5 separate regions of the Homo sapiens genome follow, and all the other regions are linked to region 1. The links come from fine-mapping of genetic effects on gene expression. A gene starts in region 1. Each other region holds a variant in brackets. All regions are shown on one strand. Distances are from middle to middle.

Region 1 (5,109 bases):
ACGAAAATATCTTAATAGCACTGAAAATGTTTATTTCATCCAAGAATTATACAACTGCTTTTTTGTTTCGATGAAACACTATAGTTAACACTATAGTTAACTGAATGCATAGTTGCCAAGCATAATTTTTAAATCATAATCAAATATGACTTTGCAAAAATAACTTGTCACTAAAAATCCATTTGAAGGAAGAACACAATGCTCTCTTGGAAATTACTGATGATAATAGTAAATAAACACATTATAGAACTTGAACCAAAGCCCCTGCAAAATATTCCCTTTTACATTTTTCGTTTTTTTGAGACAGAGTTTCGCTCTTGTCGCCCAGGCTGGAGTACAATGGCACAATCTTGCTCACTGCAAACTTTGCCTCCCAGGTTCAAGCGATTCTCCTGCCTCAGCCTCCCAAGTAGCTGGGATTACAGGTGCCCACTGCCACGTCCGGCTAATTTTTGTATTTTTAATAGTGACAGGGTTTCACCACGTTGGCCAAGCTGGTCTCGAACTTCTGACCTCAGGTGATCCTCCCACCTCAGCCTCCCAAAGTGCTGGGATTACACGCCTGAGCCACTGTGCGCCCTGCTCCCTTTTACATTTTTCTCATGCCGATTGTGACACGATGCTTTCAGTAAAAATTAATGATACAAGCAAAATGATGCAGAAACCAAGATTAAATTTACAAAATTGAAAAGCCTCAAAAGAATTCTGAATAAATTACATTGCCAAAGAAACTCCATCAAAACCTTCAGGTCCAAGCAAACATCAAAAATTCCATCAAAACCATCAGGACCAGGAAACAGGACGTAAGAAGAGTGGCCAATGAGCCAATAAGTAAAACCAAAAGGTTATATATACATAGAAAGCAAGGAAAAGAAAATATCACCAAGGACCGAGTGATGAACTACGTCAAATGCTGAGTCAAGTAAAATGAAGACTAAGCTGACACTGGATTTGGCAACATGGAGGTAGGTCATTTGTAACCTGAAGAACGGCAACAATTTCAGTAGAATGATCGAGGTAAATATCTGACTTACCGTTCAAAAGAGAGGAAGTAGGAACAATGAATTGAATATAAGCACTGTAGAGAAATTTTACTATAAAAGGGAGTAAAGAAATACAGTATTACTAGAAGAAAACATGGTCAAGAGGAAAGTTCGATGGAAAAAAGAACAAGTGTATATGCTGTTATGGATTGCATTGTGTCCTCTCTCCCCAAAAAAGTGTGAGGGAGGGAGGGAGGGAGGGAGGGAGGGAGGAAGGGAAGAGGGGAAGGAAGGAAGGGAGGGAGGGAGGGAGGCAGGCAGGCAGGCAGGCAGGCAACGCTCACTTGGTGCAAAAAAAAAGAACCTGACAAATGCTCCGATGAAGTTCACATAAATACAAAAATAGTCACACGCAATGAATACTCGTATTAGCAAGCAAATATTTAAGGACTTTACATATTTAATTCATTTATCCCTCCTAACAATGCTAGGAAGTGGATGTCAGCATTACTTCGCCCAAGTGCATCCGTCCCTTTCCGCCACCACGACAAATGTTTTCTGGTTTCATCCTTCAAGGATTAACTTACATTCATTTCAAATCCTTTAATGATAAAGTGTACAAAATAGAGGAGAGCGGCAGGGGTTGGCAGGGGACGTAGGGAAAGGATGATTTGCCTTCGATCCTACATCCTGCATAAAAAGCAGCACAACCGCCACGGAGGCAGCCAGGCAGCGGGAAAACTAAGTGCAAAGCCAGGACTCTCCCGAAACCCTCAGGTCCTGCTAAGGGAGCCGCTCCCGAGGCTCCCCGCCCTGTGTACCTGCTGAGACTGTGGGAAGTCGGGTGACTGGGCGGTTTGGCCTTGCTGGCTCTAAGGTGAAAAACTATTTGCCTGAGGAAGATGACAATTCCGAGCCTGCCAGACTTCCTTCGAGACGGAAGCCTGAAAACTCCTCAGACTCCAGCACCTCCCTTTTACAAACTGACGTTTGTGCTGAAAGAAAAGGCCCGGCCTCTGCGCCCCCGGGCGGCAGCAAAGACCGCCGGGCACCCGCCGCCGGCGCCGGATGGGGCCGTTGAAGCCACGTCCCAGGCGCCCGACGCCACGACGCCTTGGCGCCGCCGGCGTCGCTGACGCTGCGAGCGTGAGCTGCGCGCCGAGAGCGGAAGAGGAGACGCAGTTTGGCGGCTGTGGGGATTTGCCGGAAGGTTAATAATGTCCATGGGCACATCGGCCTCCTCCTTTCTTATTCTCTCCCAAGTGTAATTCCAGGACGCCCCCTGAGCGCAGATTCATCCAGGCATTTGGCCTAGAGGCCCGCGGAGGAGAAATAAAGTACAGGCCTGGTAGGACCTTTGAGAACCTGGGCTTCAGCTACAAAACCAGAGCCCCAGTCCTTCATCTGCTGTCTCCTCAAGCTCTTTTCAGTGTATTGTGGAGTTCATTACCACTCTAAGCTCGCACGGAAGTGTACACCAGCTTCGTGATCTTAAAAGCAAAACAAAATCAAATGGACTAGGAATTAACTTGAAGCAGAGTTGTGACACTTAAGTGGTTTCTTGCCATCAGTTTCCACGCACTGCTTTAAGATGCAATTTTACAAGGTAGAGTTTTTTAGATAATTTGACCTCAAGAAATATATTAATTTTGTCTTTAAGTTGAACGAAGTAAAATGTTTTTAATATTTTAAAATATTAATTGATACAATTTAACTGTTAATAATGCCTGTGTGTAAATGAAAGGAATAGGAAAGATGGAACTAAAACTAAAAACCAGGAGGTTTAAAGGAGACCTTAGATTTGACTTAGTAGATTTCAACTATTTTCTAAAACTCTGAAAATTCATTATATCTAATTATTTCTAATTTTCCAGTAAAATCTGAATGCCTCACAAGAGATTCCTGAAAATTTATCAGCTCCCAAGAGCTGGTGTAGGCTAGCTCCATCACACCACTAGGAGTTACCATTGGGGTTGCCTGGAAAGGGAAAACAACACATCTTCTGGTGTACCAGAAATGTTCTGTCTTCTGCTCTTTCTGGGTGTGTTCAAAAATTCATGAAGGCAGGCTGGGCGTGGTGGCTCGCACCTGTAATCCCAGCACTTTGGGAGCCTGAGGCAGTGCATCACTCGAGGTCAGGAGTTCGAGACTAGCCTGGCCAACATGGTGAAACCCCATCTCTACTAAAAATACAAAAATTAGCCGGGCGTGATGGCGGGTGCCTGTAATCCCAGCTACTTAGGAGGCTGAGGCAGGAGAATCACTTGAACCCAGGAGGTGGAGGTTGCAGTGAGCCGAGATTGTGCCATTGCGCTCCAGCCTGGGCAACAGAGCGAGACTCCATCTAAAAAAGAAAAAAAAAAAAAAACATGAAGGCATATGCTTATTTATGCACTTTTCAGTATGTGTGTTTTATGTCAGTAACAAAGAAAATGTACATATAAATGATCAGATTTATTAAGCTTTCCACCAACAATTTTTTATTTTTTAAAGTTGGCAATAAAATTAAGAAAGTAGTTTAGAAAGAATTGAATTGCTAAATTCCAAATCTCCCAAAACCGTTGTAAATGAAAGGGATAGGAAAGATAGAACTAAAAGTCAGGAGAGATTAAAGAAGACCTTAGATTTGACAAAGCCAATTTCAGTTATTTTCTAGAACCCTGAAAATAGATTACATCTAGTCATTTCTAATTTTGTTGGTAAAATCTTAACGGTCAAGTTGTCAAGTTAGCATACATTAGCAAAACTCTCAGCATGAGTCTAGCCAAAAGTTCACCATTCATATCTGTGGCCTTAATAGCACAGCTAAGAACCACAGAAAAGTTATCAGTGCTGACAATGTAAAGCAAAGAAGTTTAAAAAGTTAATAAATTTAAGCATGTAATATCAAATTTTGCAGTGGTTTGAGTCTGTGACATGAATCGATTATTCTTTGAAAACAAACAATACTTATGAATAGAGAGGAACTTTTTCATCTGATGAAGGACATCTGTGAACTATCTCCAGCTAACATCATTTTCAATAGTGAAAAATTGATTTTTCCTTAAGATTGGAAGGAGGCAAGGATATTTGCTCTCACTATGTCTATTCAGTATTATACTGGAGGTCTTAACAAGTGCAATAAGGCAAGAAAAAGAAATAAAGGCATAATGATTTCAATGAAAGAAATAAAGCTGTATTCCCAGACAACATACAATTTCCAGACATCTACAATGAAAACTATATAACATTACTGAGAGAAATTAAAGAAGATCCAAATTAATGGAGATTATGTACCATATTAATGGATTAGAAGACCCAATATTGCTAAAATGTCAACTTTTTAAGTCTATGTCTATCAATATTTATCTACACATTAAATGCGTTTATGATCAAAATCCAAGAAGATTATTTTCTAGAAATTGGGAAAATAATTTTGCAATTTATATGGAAATGAAAAAGGCTAGAGCCAAAACAATCTTGAAAAAAATAAGCAAATATTTAAATGACATATACTACAGGTTTTCAAGAGTTATAAAGTTATAGTAAAATAGTATATTACACGAAGTTAGACAAAAATGGAACAAATAGAGGGTTAAGAAATATATCCACATATATAAAGTCAATTGATTTTAAACAGTGCCAGTGCACTTCAATGGGGAAAGAAAAATCTTTCCAACAATGAAAATGAAAGCTGATATCATTGAGAGAAAAAAAATTATCCATGACCCCTGCCTCGTGCCATACCTGAAAGTTAATTTAAATTAAATCATAGACTTTGTGCCATGGACACATACCATACATATTATCCTTCAAGGGATAATGTGAAGGGTTCTGCTTCCAGCCAAGATGGAGTAACAGCAACTGGGTTTATGTGAAGGGTTCTGCTTCCAGCCAAGATGGAGTAACAGCAACTGGGTTTATCCTCCTGTCTGGAATAAGTAAAGAATCAGACAAAATATATGAAACAATGAATTTTTATACCTCGGTTATCAGATAATGATAATGACCCCTGCATAACAGGAAACAAATTTAAGATGATCCCTATTATTTCCTAAGCTTACTCCCTGAAGACAGGTGGTTCCAAGTCATGATACAAAGAACAGAAAACCCAGGCAGCTTCTAGCGGTCTCTGAGTTGAGGGAAG
Region 2 (5,109 bases), 660 kb before region 1:
GAAGCTGAAGCAAGTGCTCTTAGGGAGTGATTATTATCTGTTCTCTCGGTTGTTGTTTTGGGTACAATATGTAGTTTTCCCCTGGCAACTGGAAAATTATGTTGTGGCAGGAAGGACATCATTCTGCCTGTCTTGAAATGCTTTTCCCAAGAGATCTCAAGCTGAGGCTGTGTTGATAAAACACACATATAGAGAAAAGAAAATATCTTCCTTCCTTACTTCTTCTCTCTTTCTTATCGTTACACATCTTTGGAAGGGAATAAACTAAATATAGAAATAAAGGACAAGAAAATTGAATGAACACCTAACTTGAAATAGGCAGCTTCTGTCCATGCAGCGAGTGGGCTACATTATTGCAATTTCTATAAAACTGTTTCAGCACCAAATGGAAATTGGCCCATGTGCAGATTGGGGCAGCTTTCTGCAATTGAACCAATTGAACTTTTTCGAAATTGTACATATACGCACATCCGAAAGCTCTATACAACTGACTGTGTTGTAGCTAAGGACTGGTGAAATCCCCAAGGGAACCAGTGATACTCTTTCTAGGTCTTTCTAACTCTCAAAAGTTGTGTTTTAAACACTTTCTCACATCTTCCTACGAATGACTTCACTGTTTTATTTGTTGTGCTTACTGGTAACCAAAAATTATTTCAAGGTTCTATCCCAAACTCCCCTACATTTCTGGTGGCTTTGAAGTTACTCCAACGATTCTCTGTTCAGAAAGGTGGCTCCCACTTATCTGTGATTAGAGCATTTTGTGAACAAACGAGGCTGTAGAAATGAGTGCAGTGACGTAAATTCCTACACATGTTTTGGGCAAATAAGTTTATCTGACATAAATTGTTCTCCTTTCCTCCTCTGAGACCCTGGAACAAGCAGAGGAAAGGGTCTAGGCATTGAACTCCGGTGCACCTGTGATTAAACTTCAACTTGCCATGTCTGAGCTGTGTAACTTTAAGCAAATTGCTTACCCTTTCTGAGCGTTAGGTTCCTCATCTGTCAAATGAAGGTTCAAGTCTCATCCTTACAAGATTATTGTGAAGATTAACTGAGATGATACATATGATGCATGTGGTGTAGAACAGGTACCTGGTGCTATTGATGTTATCCTTTGGTCCATTAGTAAGAACATGTCCCAAACCCAAGCTTGTATCAAGTCCCTTAGAAGAAATTGAAAAGAAGACTCACAAGAATACAAAGGGAAGGATAGATACTGATATTAACAAAATAGGCTCGAAAAAATCCTAAAAAGTGAGTTCCCTATTTTTCTATCTACCTTCCTGGTCTCTTTCTTTACCTCCTGAATAGTTTGCATGGGTTCCCAGATGCGGACACTGGTTTAACCTCAGCAAGTTGTAACTCTCATTAAAGTGATTCAACTGTTCTGCTCTTTGCTTCCAGAATAATTAAGAATAGCAATGTCCAGATGCTCTCCTAACCAGTTCCCACATTAGCATCTTCCCCGTTCTCTGAAAAAAAAAAAAAAAAAAAAAAAAGGTGACCTTTTGACCTGATTCATTGGGAAGGCTGTTGTGAACTTCCTGGGTCAGAGTCGCCTGGGGTCAGTTACATTAATAGCCATCTAAACCTTCCTCTAAACCTTCCTGGGAATTGTAAAAACCTCCCAGATCCATGACAATAATGAGCTTTAAGCGTCCTTCTTCTCATTTCCAAAAGATTGAGGAATTTGGGCTTTACCCAGTAAGCCTGCATTGCACTTTGTCTTCTGACTCCATCAATTTATCATGCAGCATTGGATAATCCAAGAGTTTGTTAAATTCTCTATTTCTACAAAATATTTCCCATTGATTAAATTGTTCATTGAAACCAAGTCTGTCTTCAGAAAGAGTTCTACTGAGACTATATTGATCAGTCTCCAGAGTAATGAGTATATCTACTGAGCACATGCTTCATAGCTGACATGGTTCTAACAACATTCGCTAAATTCACCCTCCTAACGTTCTGTGAAGCAAGTGCTTGTGATACAGATAAGGGAAACTGAGGAATTGAAAGTCACAGAGTCACTGAATGGTGGGATGGGGAACAAACTCAGGCTGTCTGAACTCACTCTGATATCCTGCAAAGCAGTTACTAGCACAAACTCTTTCAATTGCTTATGATGGACAGTGCACTGATACTTTAGAGAAACTGAAATGAAACATGAAAAATACGGTTTTGGTTGATGTTTTTCCTAAGAAATGAGGATGAGGTTACTTCACTTTAATATTACACCTACGTTTAATTAGAATGAATGCAAAACTGATGAAAATTCTAGATTTTTCAGAAAGAAGCCTTTTTTTTCTGTTTGAGCCAAATCACTATAATGTCTATTTCCAAAAGCCAATAGTGAAAAAGTTCTCCCCAAAGTGAAGAGATCCTATAGAAATTTAAAACCATAATTAGGAACAAACCATAGCGGTCATTTCTATTTGCTGTGGCAGCTATTCAACTGCAGTATACGGATTTCATCTCCACCTAGAAAAAGTGAGTTCTAGTGTCTTACTGCTTTGAGGAAACCAGTGAGATGGGAGAGTTCCCTGACCCCCTTGTGGGACCTG[C/T]GACAGTGGGGTGGGGGGCGGCTCATTTTGCTCAGCAGAGCTTAAACCCCTTGTGGGAGGAGGAGCATGCAGGTGAGCGGGTGAAAGAGCCAGGGTGAGTGTCTTTAGGCGCCAGCAGGAACGAACCCTGTACTGGTCCACAGCAGCCTCTAGGGGTTGCCCCCGACCTCTGGAGCCCCAGAGGGCATGTGTTGCAAACAATTCTCTTTTAGTATTTGCCGTCCACGGATGGCTAAGTGTTAACCAGCTCAGTGGAGAATCACGGTGGCATACACCCTGCCCTCTTGGTACCCTGATTCTTGTCCAGCATCCAGGAAGAATCAGGTCACACGGACTTGAAGGATGGTGAATGCAGAGGTTTTACTGAGTGATGGAGGTGGCTCTTAGCGGAGGGGAGCTGGAAAGATGATGGTGCCGAAAGAAGGTGATCTTTTCCTGAAGCGCGGCTGGAGTCATGCCTTCTGAAGTTAAGCCACCTCTATCCATAGTCTCTAACACTCAGTTGCTCCTTCTCCTCTCCATGTTCAGCTGCTTGACTATCTGACAGCTGAGGTCTGGGATTTATATGGGCACAAGATGGTGGGGAAGGGACAAGGAGAACCAAAAAAGTAACATTTGGGCTGAAAAACAAGGATAACCGTTCTCATTTAGGGCCGCGGTTTCCAGGCCTGAGGGTGAGGACTTTGCCGGGGAACCACCCTCTTCTACCCAGTATTTCCCCACCTCCTGTCCATATCACTAGTATGGGAATTGTATGGAAAATTTTAAGCCTCTATTAAGTTGGCAAAGCGATTTAAAAATCAAGTCCTAAGCACTGAATTTTCCCAGGCTTTGTCTTGTTCTGGCTGACCGACTACCTGTGATCTAACAACTCTCCTTGTGAGCCACAGAAGCTCTCTATGACATTTTCAGTGAGGGTGCCTGAACCTCGGATGGATAACCAGTGCAACTAAAGATTTAAGGGCATTTCCTTTTTGTCTGTTTGTTTGTTCGTTTTGAGACAGAGTCTCACTTTGTTACCCAGGCTGGAGTGCAGTGGTGTGATCTTGGCTCACTGCAACCTCCGCCTCCCAGGTTCAAGGGATTCTCCTGCCTCACCCTCCCGAGTAGCTGGGATTACAGGCATGTGCCACTACACCTGGCTAATTTTTGTATTTTTAGGAGACACGGGATTTCACCATATTGGCCAGGCTGATCACGAAGTCCTGGCCTCCAGTGATCACCTGCCTCAGCCTTCCAAAGGGCTGAAATTATGGGTGCTTCAAGGACATTTCTGATGTGCTGAATACGCCTATGGAAGAAGGCATTCCTGGATCCTAATAAATAATGAATATTTATTTTAAATGAATTACTCATCTGCAGTGTTGAAGTTGAGCTTGAACAGTGCTAGCTATCAGTTTGTGTTCAGTAGGTTAAAAATCCCCCTCAAAATGTCCTGGTATCTTCAAGTGTGGCTATACTAGATCCATGCTTAAGGTCTGCCCTCTGTGTGCAGTCTAAGAGTGCATTGTTTTTTCTCCTCTGCTTTTAAAAGTCATGCACATGCTTTTAAAAGTACATGTAGAAAGTACGTCAAATAACAAATATTCCAGCCATAAATTCCATTTTCGATATTTAACCCATGCTGGTGAATATAAATTTAGTATTTTTCACATATATCTTGTACCATATAGTACCAGTTGTTTAACAACAATTTGATATTGTTAAATAACAGTGTATTGTGAATATTTTGTCATGTTATTAAATATTCTTCTATTTCACATTTTAATGACTGACCTATGTCCTATCACATGAACATGCCTCAATTTTATTTCACAAACCCACTATAAGTGGATGTACTTGTTATTTATTGTGTATAATAAATTAGCCCAAATTTAACAGCTTAAAGCAGCAAGCATTTATGATCTCACAGTTTCTGTGGGTCAGAAATCCAAGAACAGCTTAGCTGGGTCCTCCAGCTCAGGGTACCTCACAAGGCTGCAGTGCAGGTGCTGGCTGGGGCTGTTGTCATCTGAAGGCTCAAACCGGGAAGGATCTGCTTCTGGGTTCACTCACGTTCCATTGGCAAGCTTCAAGTCTTCACTGTCTTTTGGCTAGAGACATCAAGTCCTTGTCATGTGGGCCACCCCATAAGGCTGTTTACAACATAGGATGTGCCTTTCCTCAGATGAGGATTCCAAGAGACAGAATGTGAGAGAAGATACCCCTAATGGAAGGTGCAGTCTTTTCATATCTTCATCTTGAAAATGGCATACCATGATTTTTGCCATATTCTAGCTGGTAGACAATAGTAACTAAGGCTTGTCCACATTCAAGTGAAGAGGACCATATACCAAGGCATACATACTGGAGACAGGGATCACAGAGGACCAGCTTAAAAACAGACCACCATAGTGGGCATTGAGGTAACACATACATGCATGCACAGTTCGGACACTAATAAAAGGGAAATATTTTTCTGAGTAGCTTAGAGGAAGTGACCAGTTGAAGTTTTCAAGACCTGATGTTTCAGCCATTAAATGAAAACAGCAGAAAACTCATAATGGCA
Region 3 (5,109 bases), 350 kb before region 1:
AAGATCAAGTGCAGAATACACATGCTTCTCATTGGCACATGGAAGATCACATATCAGGCCACAAACAAGTCTAAACAAATATTAAAAAGTCAAAATCATATCAGTTATCTTCTCAAATTATGATGAAATAAAACAAGGTATCAATGTGATTGGATTGAAGGATGCAAAGTATTGTTCCTGGGTGTGTCTGTGAGGGTGTTGCCAAAGGAAATTAACATTTGAGTCAGTGGACTAGGAGAGGCAGATCCACTCTCAATCTGGGTGGGCACCACCTAATCAGCTGCCAGAATGGCCAGAATAAAAGCAGGCAGAAGAATGTGAAAGACTAAACTGGCTTAGTCTCCTAGCCTACATCTTTCACCTGTGCTGGATGCTTCCTGCCCTTCAACACCAGACTCGAAGTTCTTCAGCTTTTGGACTCTTGGACCTACACCAGTAGTTTTCCAGGGGCTCTCAGGCCTTCTGCTGCACTGTCAGCTTCCCTACTTTTGAGGTTTTGGAAATAGGACTGGATTCCTTGCTCCTCAGCTTGCAGATGGCCTACTGAGGAACCTCACCTTTTGATTGTGTGAGTCAATACTCCTTAATAAACTCCCTTTTGTCTATATATCTATCCTCTTAGTCCAGCCCTCAAGAGAACCCTAATACAGATTTTGGTACTGGGAGTGGTTCTAGAGGAACAGAATTTTAAGGATGGAGTATTTAGTTGCCTTTGGGGTTTCTGGAGTTGCCTGCTTAATATGATTAGACCCAAAAATGCTAAGGATTCTACTTCTAATAGTATGGAGAACACTGATAGTTCTTGGTGTGAACTGTTTAGAGAGTTATGCAAAATAAATGCATTTGATACTCCTGATTCACTGCTCAAGAGATGCAAGGAGTTTAGTAACTCTATACATAATACCTTTGACCATATGTGAAGAACTACGGAATGTAAAGAAGTTGGTTGGTTGCTCCTAAGTTCACTAGACAATGTGATAAAAGAAAATGAAGTCAGGGATTCTATCTCCCGGCTCTAGAAGCACATACTAAGCCTCAAATCTTCTAAGGTTGCCCTAAGTGAGAGTCTTATCTTCTGTAGAAAAAAAGCTGAAATTGTGGAAAATCAGACACAAGCTCTTATCCTGTGAGTGGCTGACCTGCAACAAAAGATGCATGCACAACCTCACCAGGTATCCACTATTAAAGTGAGGACATTGATTGGAAAAGAATGGGACCATGCAACTTAAAATGGGGACATGTGGGAGGACCCTGATGAGGCTGGAGGCACTGAGCTCCTAAATTCTGATGAGACTTTTTGGGCGGAGGAAACAGCCTCCCCACTCCAAGTGGTGGCAACATCCCCTTCCCAATCTATGACCCACGCTGCCATCAGCCCTTCCACATTTGCTGAGGAAATTAACCCTGCACTGCCTGAGGTAACAGTGATGGCCTCCCTTGGGGCAGGTGCCAGGCAAGACAATGCTGATTTTCCTCAGGACCCACTCCCAACACCCCTGTTTGCTTCTAGACCTATAATTAGGCTGAAGTCCTGGCAGACCCCTGGAGTTGAGGTTCAAAGTGTAACCCACATGGAGGTGCACTACACTCCAAAAGAACTGCTTGAGTTTTCTAATTTATTTAAGCAGAAATCTGGAGCACATGCATGAGAATGAATATTAAGGGTGTAGGATAATGGTGGAAGGAACACAAAGTTGGAACAGGCTTAATTTATTGATTTAGGCCCACTAAGCAGGGATTCTGCATTTAATGTTGCAGACTGGGGAGTTAAAAAAGATTCTAATAGTTTATTGGCTTTGTTAGCTGAAATATGGATTAAAAGATGGCCCACTGTGAGCGAGCTGGAAATGCCTGATCTCTCTTGGTTTAATGTAGAGAAAAAGATCCAAAGTCTTAGGAGATCAGGATGCTAGAGTGGATTAGTCACTTTAGACCTACTCATCCCAGCTGGGAGGGTCCAGAAGACATAATCTTGACCAATACTTCGAGAAATAGATTTGTGTGGGCAGCACCTGCATCCTTGAAGAGCTCTGTGATTGCTCTTCTCTGTATGCCGATCTTACAGTGGGAACCACAGTCACTTCAGCTATAAAATTTAAATGCAGTGGGAATAATTGGATCCCAAGATGGCAGAGGCCAAGCGGTGGCACTCAACCATCAAAGGCAAGGTGGGCATAGTTACTGCAATGGACAGCAGAGGCAAAGTAGCAATCAGAATAGTCTGACTCATGTAGAGCTCTGGCATTGGCTAATTAATCACGGTGTTTCTAGAAGTGAAATTGCTAGGAAGCCCACTGCATTTTTACTTAATTTATATAAGCAGAAAATTCCATGTCAAGTGGACAAAAGACTGATTTGAATTATAAAGACAGAATCATGGACCCTCAACCAATTTCCAGACTTGAACCAGTTTACAGTTTGTAAACTTGAACCACTTTACTTGAAGGAAAGGCTGGATCCCCTTGAGGAAGGATCCCACTACACTACCAACAGTTTATGCTGTTAATCTTTCTTCCATCTTTCCCCAAAGAGACCTCCAGCCTTTTACTAGGGTAACTGTGCATAGGGGAAAGGGAAATAATCAGACCTTTCAGGGACTACTGGTCACTGGCTCTGAGCTGACATTGATTCCGGGGGACTCAAAAATGTTATTGTGATCCTCCAGTTAAGGTAGGGGCTTATGGAGGTCAGGTAATTAATGGAGTTTTAGCTCAGATCCAACATAGAGTGGCTCCAGTGGGTCCTTGGACTCACCCTGTGGTCATTTCCCCAGTGCCAGAATGCATAATTGGGACAGACATACTTAGTAGCTGGCAGAACCTCCACATTGGCTCCCTGACTGGTAAAGTGAGGGCTGTTATGGTGGGAAAGGCCAAATGGAAGCCATTAGAACTGCCTCTACCTAGAAA[T/A]ATCATACATCAAAATAATATCGCATCCTTACAAAAATTGCAGAGATTACTGCCACCATCAAGGTCTTGAAAGATGCAGGGGTGGTGATTCCCACCACATCCCTGTTCAACTCTCCCATTTGGCCTGTGTAGAAGACAGGTGGATCTTGGAGAATGATAGTGGATTATCGTAAGCTTAACAAAGGGTTTACTCCAACTGCAGCTGCTGTATCAGATGTAGTTTCATTGCTTGAGCAAATTAACACATCTCCTGATACCTGGTATGTGGCCACTGACTTGGCAAATGCCTTTTGCTCCATTCCTGTCCATAAGGCCCACCAGAAGCAATTTGCCTTCAGTGGGCAAGGCCAGCAACATACCTTTACTGTACTACCTCAGGGATATATCAACTCTCCAGCTTTGTGTCATAATCTTGTTTGGAGAGATCTTGTTTGCTTTTCCCTTCCACAAGATATCACACTGGTCCATTATATTGATGACATTATGCTGATTGGATCCAGAGAGTGAGAAGTAGCAAACACACTGGACTTATTGGTGAGACATTTGCATGCCAGAGGATGGGAAATAAATCCAACTAAAATTCAGGGACCTTTTACCTCAGTAAAATTTCTAGGGATCCAGTGGTGTGGGGCCTGTCAAGATATTCCTTAGAATATCACCTTAGAAAGGTGAAGGATAAGTTGCTGCATTTGGCCCCTCCTACAACCAAGAAGGAGTCACAACACCTAGTGGGCCTATTTGGATTTTGGAGGCAACACATTCCTCATTTTGGTGTGTTATTTTGGCCCATTTATCCAGGGACCCAAAAGGCTGCCAATTTTTAGTGGGGTCCAGAACAGGAGAAGGCTCTGCAATAAGTCCAGGGTGCTATGCAAGCTGCTCTGCCATTTGGGTCATATGACCCAGCATACCCAATGGTGCGTGAAGTGTCAGTGGCAGATAGGGATGCTGTTTGGAGACATTGGCAGGCCCCCATAGGTGAATCACAGTGGAGCCCTCTCGGATTTTGGAGCAAGGCCCTGCCGTCTTCTGCAGATAATCATTCTCCTTTTGAGAGTCAGCTCTTGGCCTGTTACTGGGCTTTGGTAGAAACTAAACATTTGACTATGGGTCATCAAGTCACAATGCAACCTGAACTGCTTATCATGAACTGGGTGCTTTCTGACCCATCTAGCCATAAAGTAGGTGATACGCAGCAGCATTCCATCATCAAATGGAAGTGGTATATACATGATCGGGCTCGAGCAGCTCCTAAAGGCACAAGTAAGTTACATGAGGAAGTGGCTCAAATGCCCATGGTCCCCACTCCTGCCACCCTGCCTTCTCTCCCCTAGCCTGCACCAGTGGCCCCATGGGGAGTTCCCTATGATCAGTGGACAGAGGAAGAGAATAGTAGGGTCTGGTTCACAGATGATTCTGCATGATACACAGGCACCACCCAACAGTGGACAGCTACAGCACTACAGCCCCTTTCTAGGACATCCCTGAAGGACAGCAGTGAAGAGAAATTTTCCCAGTGGGCAGAACTTTGAGCAGTGCACCTGGTTGTGCACTCTGCATGGAAGGAGAAATGGCCAGATGTGCAATTATATGCTGATTCATGGGCTGTAGCCAATAGTTTGCCTGGATGGTCAGGGTCTTGGAAGAAGCATGAGTGAAAAATTGGTGACAAAGACATTTGGGGAAGAGGTATGTGGATGGACCTCTCTGAATGGTCAAAAACTGTGAAGATATTTGTATCCCAAGTGAGTGCTCACCAACGGGTGACCTCAGCAGAGGAGGACTTTAATAATCAAGTGGAGAGGATGACCCGTTCTGTGGACACCACTCAGCCTCTTTCCTCAGCCACGCCTGTCATTGCCCAATGGGCCCATGAACAAAGTGGCCATGGTGGCAGGGATGGAGGTTACGCATGGGCTCAGCAATGTGGACTTCCACTCACCAAGGCTGATCTGGCTACGGCCACTGCTGTGTGTCCAATTTGCCAGCAGCAAAGACCAACACTGAGCCCTCTATATGGCACCATTCCTCGGGGTGATCAGCCAGCTACTTGGTGGCAGGTTGATTATATTGGACCTCTGTTATCATGGAAAGGGCAGAGGTTTGTCCTCACCAGAATAGACACGTACTCCAGTTATGCGTTTGCCTATGATGCATACAATGATTCTGCCAAAACTACTATCCATGGACTCATGGAATG
Region 4 (5,109 bases), 220 kb before region 1:
AAGCATTCCCTTTGAAAACTGGCACAAGACAGGGATGCCCTCTCTCACCACTCCTATCCAACATAGTGTTGGAAGTTCTGGCCAGGGCAATCAGGCAGGAGAAAGAAATAAAGGGTATTCAATTAGGAAAAGAGGAAGTCAAATTGTTCCTGTTTGCAGATGACATGATTGTATATCTAGAAAACCCCATCATCTCTGCCCAAAATCTCCTTAAGCTGATAGGCAACTTCAGCAAAGTCTCAGGATACAAAATCAATGTGCAAAAATCACAAGCATTCTTATACACCAATAACAGACAAACAGAGAGCCAAATTATGAGTGAACTCCCATTCACAATTGCTTCAAAGAGAATAAAACACCTGGGAATCCAACTTACAAGGGACGTGAAGGACCTCTTCAAGGAGAACTACAAACCACTGCTCAATGAAATAAAAGAGGATACAAACAAATGGAAGAACATCCCATACTCATGGGCAGGAAGAATCAATATCGTGAAAATGGCCATACTGCCCAAGGTAATTTATAGATTCAATGCCATCCCCATCAAGCTACCAGTGACTTTCTTCACAGGATTGGAAAAAACTACTTTAAAGTTCATATGGAACCAAAAAAGAGCCTGCATTGCCAAGTCAATCCTAAGCCAAAAGAACAAAGCTGGAGGCATCACGCTACCTGACTTCAAACTATACTACAAGGCTGCAGTAACCAAAAGAGCATGGTGCTGGTACCAAAACAGAGATATGGACCAATGGGACAGAACAGAGCCCTCAGAAATAATACCACACATCTACAACCATCTGATCTTTGACAAACCTGAGAAAAACAAGAAATGGGGAAAGGATTCCCTATTTAATAAATGGTGCTGGGAAAACTGGCTAGCCATATGTAGAAAGCTGAAACTGGATCCCTTCCTTACACCTTATACAAAAATTAATTCACGTGGATTAAAGACTTAAATGTTAGACCTGAAACCATAAAAACCCTAGAAGAAAATCTAGGCGATACCATTCAGGACATAGGCATGGGTAAAGACTTCATGTCTAAAACACCAAAAGCAATGGCAACAAAAGCCAAAATTGACAAATGGGATCTAATTAAACTGAAGAGTTTCTGCACAGCAAAAGAAACTACCATCAGAGTGAACAGGCAGCCTACAGAATGGGAGATAATTTTTGCAATCTACTCATCTGACAAAGGGCTAATATCCAAAATCTACAAAGAACTTAAACAAATTTACAAGAAAAAATCAAACAAACCTATCAAAAAGTGGGCAAAGGATATGAACAGACACTTCTCAAAAGAAGACATTTATGCAGCCACATGACAAAATGCTCATCATCACTGGCCATCAGAGAAATGCAAATCAAAACCACAATGAGATACCATCTCACACCAGTTAGAATGGTGATCATTAAAAAGTCAGGAAACAACAGGTGCTGGAGAGGATGTGGAGAAATAGGAACGCTTTTACACTGTTGGTGGGACTGTAAACTAGTTCAACCATTGTGGAAGGCAGTGTGGCAATTCTTCAAGGATCTAGAACTAGAAATACCATTTGACCCAGCCATCCCATTACTGGGTATATACCCAAAGGATTATAAATCATGCTGCTATAAAGACACATGCACACGTATGTTTATTGTGGCACTATTCACAATAGCAAAGACTTGGAACCAACCCAAATGTCCAACAATGATAGACTGAATTAAGAAAATGTGGCACATATACACCATGGAATAATACGCAACCATAAAAAAGGATGAGTTCATGTCCTTTGTAGGACATGGATGAAGCTGGAAACCATCATTCTCAGCAAACTATCGCAAGGACAAAAAACCAAACACTACATGTTCTCACTCATAGGTAGGAATTGAACAATGAGAACACTTGGACACAGGAAGGGGAACATCACACACTGGGGCCTATCATGGGGTGGGGGGAGGGGGGACCGATAGCATTAGAAGTTATACCTAATGTAAATGACAAGTTAATGGGTGCAGCACACCAACACGGCACATGTATATATATGTAACAAACCTGCACGTTGTGTACATGTACCCTAGAACGTAAAGTATAAAAAAAACAAAAGAAATACTAAGTCCAACCTTGCAGGATTATTGTGTATGTTAGAAAAATATTATGTTCTTCCTACTGCCGTACCTGGTATTTATTAGTAATTCAGTAAATGATAGCTATTTATATTATTATCTTTGTAATCTACCTTCTCTTCATCATCTTTAGGTCTCAGTGTAAATCAAAGGGAATAACATTGCTTATTCCAAAGGACTACCACAAGGACTAAATAACACCGGTGAAACTTCTTTGTCAATGAAAAAAAAAAAAAAA[AG/G]AAAAAGAATACTCTAAAGACTCCACCAAAAAACTATTAGACCAAATGATTAAATTCATAAAATTTTCAGGGTAGAAAGTCAACACACAAACATTAGTAGTGTTCCTATACTCTAACAATGAACTGTCTGAAAAAGAAGTCAAAAAGTAATCTCATTTACAATATCTACAAAAAATTAAGTTCCTAGGAATAAATTTAAACAAGGAGGAAAAAAAGTTCTACAATGAAAACTATAAAACATTAGTAAAAGAAGTTTAAGAAAGCACAAATAAATAAAAAGATATCCCATGTTCCTGGATTGGAAGAATTAATATTGTTAAAATGCCCATCAGTTATGAATTTAATCCCTATCAAAATCCCAGCAACATTTTTTGACAGAAATAGAAAAAATCCAAAAATTCATATGTAACCATAAAAGACGCTGAATAGCCAAAGCAATCTTGAGCAAGAAAAACAAAGCTGGAGGCACTGTACATCCTAATTTTAAAACATATTATTTAGCTACAGCAAACAAGACAGCATGGTACTGGTACAAAAACAGACATGTAGATCACTGGAATAAAATATACAATGGTGTTGAAAAACTAGATATCCACATGCAGAAGAATAAAATTATACCTTCATCTCACACTATATACAAAAATCAACTCAAATTGGATTAAGGACACATAAATTTAGGATCTGAAACTAGAATTGCTAGAAGAAAATATGGGAAACACTCAATTATGTTGATCTGGGCAAAGATTTTTTTAATATGACCCCAAAAGCAAGGTAATAAAAGCAAAAATAAGTAAATGGTATTAAACCAAACTAAAAAGCTCTGCACAGCAAAGCAAACAATCAACAGTAGGAATAAATAGCCTATTGCATGAGAGAAAGTATTTCCAAATCATAAATCTGATAAGCAGTTAAGATCCAATTTATAGAAGCAGCTCAAACAACTCAATAGTTAGAAAACAATCAACGCAAATAAAAGATGAGTATGGGATCTGAATAGACATTTCTCTAATGAAGACATGCAAATAGCCAACAGGTATATGAACAAGTGTTCAACATCACTAATCATCAGGGACATGCAAATTAAAACCACAATGAAATATCACTTCCCACACACTAAAGTAACTATTATCAAAAAGATGGAAGAGAAGTGCTGGCAAAGATGTGAAGAGAAGGGAACACTTGTACACTGTTGGTGGGAATGTAAATTAGTAAAGCCATAATGGAAAACACTACAGGGATTCCTCAAAAAATTAAAAATAGAACTACAATATTATCCACAATTTCACCTCTGGATGTACCTCCAAAGGATATGAAATCAGTATATAAAAGAGATATTTGTACTCCCATGTTCACTGTAACATTACTCACAATAACCAAGATACGGAATCAAACTTAGTGTCCAGCCACAGATCAATAGATAACGAAAATCACCCTTAAAAAAAGGAAGTAAATTTTGTCTTTTGTGATAATATGGATGAATGTGGAGAACATAATGTTAAATAAAGTAAGCCAGTCACTAAAAACAAATACTGCATTATCTTACCTATATGAGGAGTTTTAAAAAGTCAAGTTCATAGGAACAGAGAGTAAAATGTTGGTTATAAGAGGCTGATGGTGGGAGGACTGAAGCAATGTTGGTCAAAGGACACACATTTCAGCTGGAAATGAGAAACGTTTAAGAGATCTACTGCACTTCATGAGTACTGTTAATAATAACATATTGCAAAATTGCTAAGAGAAATTTTAAGTCTTCTCAATATAAAAAAATAACAAGGTAATATACATGTTAAATAGCTTGATTTTATTTTCCACAATTTATATTTAAATTCCACAATTTATTATTCCACAATTTATATATTAAAACACTATGTAGTACATGATGAATGTATATAATTTTTACTTGCCAATTAAAAATAAATCTTAAATTATTTTAAGGTTATCTACAATTATTACACTTACTACTGAGTTGATTATCTTGGAAAGATTTTTGTTTCTTTACTTCTACTTCCGTTTTTGACTTTGTGTCTTGTTCAAGCATAAGATTTTCTTCTGGTACATCATTATGAGCTACACAAATTAATAAATTTAGTGCACTAAACATAAACTATAGTGAAATTTCTAGATTTCAGATTTATAACAAGTATACAGCCATATTCTGTCTCATTTTTATACATGTAAAATATAAGTAAATTACTATAATTCTAGATCTGACATGAAAATAGTGACAAGAACTTTAAAGGATCTGAGGTGAAGTAGTCTCATTATTTTGATATTTCTTGGCATCAAATATTTATATTAGCCTCTACTTGTTCTTAATTATTTATAATTTAGATTAATATATATTCATAGGCAAAGCAATGAAAATTCATATGTGCAAGTTTATTCATTACAGCATACTTTTAATTACAAAATACTCAAAATCACTTAAATGTACAAGCATATGAAATTGGTTAATAAAAAGGTATATATTATAATTTGTGGTATTATCAACTACAATATTTAATATGATACAAAGAGTTGTACAGGAAGCTCTAAAAGTAATAAAAAGATTGTTACAACCTGATTTAGAGGGATTTATAGAAGGTAATGTTAAGTGAGAAAAAATTGAAATAGAAGAAAGATATCAAGTATGCTATCCATTAGGAAATAAATGTAAAGAGATACTTACTTTTAGAAATTGAAACACAGGAAAGATAAACCAGAAAACAAAGTAGTTGGTGACCAAAATTTGCATAGACCCTACATGCAAAATTGCATCCAAT
Region 5 (5,109 bases), 380 kb before region 1:
TAATGCAATCTCATATGCAAATTTAAATCACACTAGATAGTTTGTGGTAATAACATAACTTTCAAGTATATATTAAGAACATATATATGTTGTAGGGGTATATCTGGTGAGGTGGAACATCAATTTTTTTTCATAGTTGACCTATCTGCACACAATGGTCATCACAACTCACAAAATATAATAAAACAGAAGTTCCTTGACTCATCCAGAAATATTTTAATAGTCTATTTTAGGTGGTGTAACTATAATTCAAATAGGCATCAGTGATAAAAAAGAATAATAAATAACGCATGTAATGTGAAAAAAGTCTCTTCTCTCTGGTTCTTTTAGCAGGCGGACTTTACAGCTGGGAAGAAGAAAACGGGAATATTTGTAGTGGTACTAGCCTTAGGATTGTATTCCTTTTCATTTGAGTTTTATGTGATTTATACATTTTGTTGGATTTAGAAACTAGTATCTAGGTATAATGATGGAAAAACTAAAAAATCTACTAAAGAGAATTTCATATTGAAAAACAGATAATTAGAACTGGTAAACCTGGTTTATTAAACCTGAAGTTTTTTGTGTCAAAGTTGGTTTTAGCAGAGCATGTAATGGTAGTTGGACACCTGTAATGATCCTGAACGACAGAGTGGAAGTCTTGCTTTGGAAAATTGGCTGAGCCCATTATTAATGTTAAAATTTGCACTATTATCATGGCAGCCCAAATATACCACCAATATAATTCAAATAGAGGCAGAAACCAGATTACACATCATTGTAAAAATGCATTATATTGGCCAGGTGCAGTGGCTCATGCCTGTAATCCCAGCACTTTGGGAGGCCGAGGTGGGCAGATCTCGAGGTCCCAAGTTCGAGACCAGCCTGGCCAACATAGTGAAACCTTGTCTCTACTAAAAACACAAAAATTAGCAGGGCGTGGTGGCGTGCGCCTTAGTCCCAGCTACTTAGGAGGCTGAGGCAGGATAATTGCTTGAACCTGGGAGGCGGAGGTTGTGGTGAGCCAAGATTGCATCACTGTACTCCAGCCTGGGCAACAGAGCAAGACACCATCTCAAAAAAAAAAAAGCATCATATTGGACAAAACGAGTTTTCAATAATTCAATAACAACATTTTGTAAAAGTAATAGCTATATGCAACAGAAAACTGAGGAACATTAACAGATGTATTTCAGCTCTTTTGTCTTTCTCTTACAGATATAAGTAAGAAAGGCTGATTCATTTGAACTAAGAAATCAGAGGATTTTTAGATAAGCAGGGAGTCAATGAGTAGAGCATTTTAGAGTTAAACACTACGAATACAAAGTTATGTGCTGGAGAAATTTATCAACTAGTAAAAGTCACAATTTTCCTCCCTTACATTATTATCCTGTTGCTTTAAATTTTACAAAATCTTATCCTGCTTAGAGTTCCTGAGCTTTTAAAAATGTGTATATTTTTAAACCATACTATTTTTCCATTTAAAGTGTCCAATTCAATGCTTATTACAGAAATGTGTATTACCTCAGTCAACTTTATAATCTTTTTCACATTTACACTAATTACATTCTACTGAGATACAGAAACATTACTCCTTTATATATACCTTTATTCTCTTTCCCCAGTTTTTGTGCTACTGTTATACATATTATACCTGTAAATATTAAGGACAATGTAATAATTATTGTTATAATTATTTCTTTGTATAACTTTATGCCTTTTAAATAAACTGAGAAAAGAAAGAAGATCAAGTACATGTTTATAGGATTTGTTACATGAACACACTTATTTACATTTTTTGGTTATTTTTATTCTTGCTCTGTATTTATCATCCAGTGTTATTTTCTTACAGTGTTACATCACTTCTCCCTCCAATCACCTTTGTGATGCTATCATGAATATATTACATGTTGATATGTTATATGCCCAATGATACAATTATATAAATTTTTTATACAGTTGTCTTTTAGATAAATTAAGAAAAGAAAGAAGGTGGAATATATATTTGTACATACTCTCTTTTGCAATTATAACATTTAACTCATACCTTTTTTAGGGGGCTTCAAATTACTGTCAGAGGTCAGCTTTAGCCTGAAGAAATTTCTTTAGAATTTCTTGGAAAACAGTTCTGCTAGAAATGAAATCTCTCAATTTTTATTTAGTAATTTCATATTTCACCTTTTCTGAAAAGCAGTTTTGCTAGCAATAAAATTATTGGTTGGTAGATTTTTTTTTTTCAGCACTTTTATTTATTGTTTTGTTTGTTTTTCTTTTTTTGTTATACTTTAAGTTTTAGGGTACATGTGCACAACGTGCAGGTTTGTTACATATGTATACATGTGCCATGTTGGTGTGCTGCACCCATTAACTCATCATTTAACATTAGGTATATCTCCTAATGCTATCCCTCCCCCTACCCCCACCCCACAACAGGCCCCAGTGTGTGATGTTCCCCTTCCTGTGTCCAAGTGTTCTCATTGTTCAATTCCCACCTATGAGAGAGAACATGTGGTGTTTGGTTTTTTGGCCTTGCGATAGTTTGCTGAGAATGATGATTTCCAGCTTCATCCATGTCCCTACAAAGGACATGAGCTCATCCTTTTTTATGGTTGCATAGTATTCCATGGTGTATATGTGTCACTTTTCTTAATCCAGTCTATCATTGTTGGACATTTGGGTTGGTTCCAAGTCTTTGCTATTGTGAATAGTGCCGCAATAAACATACGCGTGCATGTGTATTTATAGCAGCATGTTTTATAATCCTTTGGGTATATACCCAGTAATGGGATGGCTGGGTCAAATGGTA[C/T]TTCTAGTTCTAGATCCCTGAAGAATCGCCACACTGACTTCCACAATGGTTGAACTAGTTTACAGTCCCACCAACAGTGTAAAAGTGTTCCTATTTCTCCACATCCTCTCCAGCACCTGTTGTTTCCTGACTTTTTAATGATCGCCATTCTAACTGGTGTGAGATGGTATCTCATTGTGGTTTTGATTTGCATTTCTCTGGTGGCCAGTGATGGTGAGCATTTTTTCATGTGTCCGTTGGCTGCATAAATGTCTTCTTTTGAGAAGTGTCTGTTCATATCCTTCGCCCACTTTTTGATGGGGTTGTTTTTTCTTGTAAATTTGTTTGAGTTCATTGTAGATTCTGGATATTAGCCCTTTGTCAGATGGGTAGATTGTAAAAATTTTCTCCCATTCTGTAGGTTGCCTGTTCACTCTGATGGTAGTTTCCTTTGCTGTGCAGAAGCTCTTCAGTTTAATTAGATCCCATTTGTCAATTTAGGCTTTTGTTGCCATTGCTTTTGGTGTTTTAGACATGAAGTCCTTACCCATGCCTATGTCCTGAATGGTATTGCCTAGGTTTTCTTCTAGGGTTTTTATGGTTTTAGGTCTAACATTTAAGTCTTTAATCCATCTTGAATTAATTTTTGTATAAGGTGTAAGGAAGCTATCTAGTTTCAGCTTTCTACATATGGCTAGCCAGTTTTCTCAGCACCATTTATTAAATAGGGAATCCTTTCCCCATTTCTTGTTTTTGTCAAGTTTGTCAAAGATCAGATAGTTGTAGATATGCAGCATTATTTCTGAGGGCTATGTCCTGTTCCATTGGTCTATATCTCTGTTTTGGTACCAGTACCATGCTCTTTTGGTTACTGTAGCCTTGTAGTATAGTTGGAAGTCAGGTAGCGTGATGCCTCCAGCTTTGTTCTTTTGGCTTAGGATTGACTTGGCAATGTGGGCTCTTTTTTGGTTCCATATGAACTTTAAAGTAGTTTTTTCCAATTCTGTGAAGAAAGTCATTGGTAGCTTAATGGGGATGGCATTGAATCTGTAAATTACCTTGGGCAGTATGGCCATTTTCACAATTCTATTGATTCTTCCTACCCATGAGCATGGAATGTTCTTCCATTTGTTTGTATCCTCTTTTATTTCACTGAGCAGTAGTTTGTAGTGCTCCTTGAAGAGGTCCTTCCTGTCCCTTGTAAGTTGGATTCCTAGGTATTTTATTCTCTTTGAAGCAATTGTGAATGGGAGTTCACTCATGATTTGGCTTTCTGTCTGTTATTGGTGTATAAGAATGCTTGTGATTTTTGCACATTGATTTTGTATCTGGAGACTTTGCTGAAGTTGCCTCTCAGCTTAAGGAGATTTTGGACTGAGACAGTGGGGTTTTCTAGATATACAATCATGTCATCTCCAAACACGGACAATGTGACTTCCTCTTTTCCTAATTGAATACCCTTTATTTCCTTCTCCTGCCTGATTGCCCTGGTCAGAACTTCCAACACTATGTTGAATAGGAGTGGTGAGAGAGGACATCCCTGTCTTGTGCCAGTTTTCAAAGGGAATGCTTCCAGTTTTTGCCCATTCAGTATGATATTGGCTGTGGGTTTGTCATAGATAGCTCTTATTATTTTGAGATATGTCCCATCAATAACTAATTTATTGAGAGTTTTTAGCATGAAGGTTGTTGAATTTTGTCAAAGGCCTTTTCTGCATCTATTGAGATAATCATGTGGTTTTTGTCATTGGTTCTGTTTATATGCTGGATCACGTTTATTGATTTGCATATTTTGAACCAGCTTTGCATCCCAGGGATGAAGCCCATTTGATCATGGTGGATAAGCTTTTTGATGTGCTGCTGGATTCAGTTTGTCAGTATTTTATTGAGGATTTTTGCATCGATGTTCATGAGGGATATTGGTCTAAAATTCTCTTTTTTTTGTTGTGTCTCTGTCAGGCTTTGGTATCAGGATGATGCTGACCTCATAAAATGAGTTAGGGAGGATTCCCTCTTTTTCTATTGGTTGGAATAGTTTCAGAAGGAATCATAACAGCTCCACCTTTTACCTCTGGGAGAATTCAGCTATGAATCCATCTGGTCCTGGACTTTTTTTGGTTGGTAAGCTATTAATTATTGCCTCAATTTCAGAGCCTGTTATTGGTCTATTCAGAGATTTAACTTCTTCCTGGTTTGGTCTTGGGAGGGTGTTTGTGTCAAGGAATGTATCCATTTCTTCTAGATTTTCTAGTTTATTTGTGTAGAGGTGTTTATAGTATTCTCTGATGGTAGTTTCTATTTCTGTGGGATCAATGGTGATATCCCCTTTATCATTTTTTATTGCG

The links.
Region 2: its variant is fine-mapped to the expression of CCDC7 in esophagus mucosa (GTEx, PIP 0.99).
Region 3: its variant is fine-mapped to the expression of CCDC7 in subcutaneous fat (FUSION, PIP 0.90).
Region 4: its variant is fine-mapped to the expression of CCDC7 in whole blood (INTERVAL, PIP above 0.99). The same link has a PIP of 0.9 or more in lymphoblastoid cells.
Region 5: its variant is fine-mapped to the expression of CCDC7 in whole blood (TOPMed, PIP above 0.99).

Annotation. Positions count from the first base shown.
Region 1 is chr10:32,443,093-32,448,201 of GRCh38, reverse strand. It overlaps CCDC7 (coiled-coil domain containing 7), which reads right to left and starts at 2,062. Exons shown (of 44, transcript NM_001395015.1): 1 at 1,805-2,062. LOC101929431 (a long non-coding RNA gene) reads left to right here and starts at 2,146. Exons shown (of 3, transcript NR_120660.1): 1 at 2,146-2,589. RefSeq lists a silencer at 1,892-2,121 and an enhancer at 2,192-2,511.
Region 2 is chr10:33,104,563-33,109,671 of GRCh38, reverse strand. All of the region lies in intron 1 of IATPR (ITGB1 adjacent tumor promoting lncRNA), which reads left to right. Among named protein-coding and RNA genes, the nearest start is that of IATPR, 9.7 kb to the left of the region's middle. The variant C/T (reference allele first, on the strand shown) is at 2,562.
Region 3 is chr10:32,798,073-32,803,181 of GRCh38, reverse strand. All of the region lies in intron 30 of CCDC7 (coiled-coil domain containing 7), which reads right to left. Among named protein-coding and RNA genes, the nearest start is that of SNORA86, 100 kb to the left of the region's middle. The variant T/A (reference allele first, on the strand shown) is at 2,910.
Region 4 is chr10:32,663,359-32,668,467 of GRCh38, reverse strand. CCDC7 (coiled-coil domain containing 7) reads right to left here. Exons shown (of 44, transcript NM_001395015.1): 22 at 4,307-4,414. Among named protein-coding and RNA genes, the nearest start is that of CCDC7, 220 kb to the right of the region's middle. The variant AG/G (reference allele first, on the strand shown) is at 2,347.
Region 5 is chr10:32,819,108-32,824,216 of GRCh38, reverse strand. The region is part of intron 32 of CCDC7 (coiled-coil domain containing 7); the gene reads right to left. Among named protein-coding and RNA genes, the nearest start is that of SNORA86, 80 kb to the left of the region's middle. The variant C/T (reference allele first, on the strand shown) is at 2,786.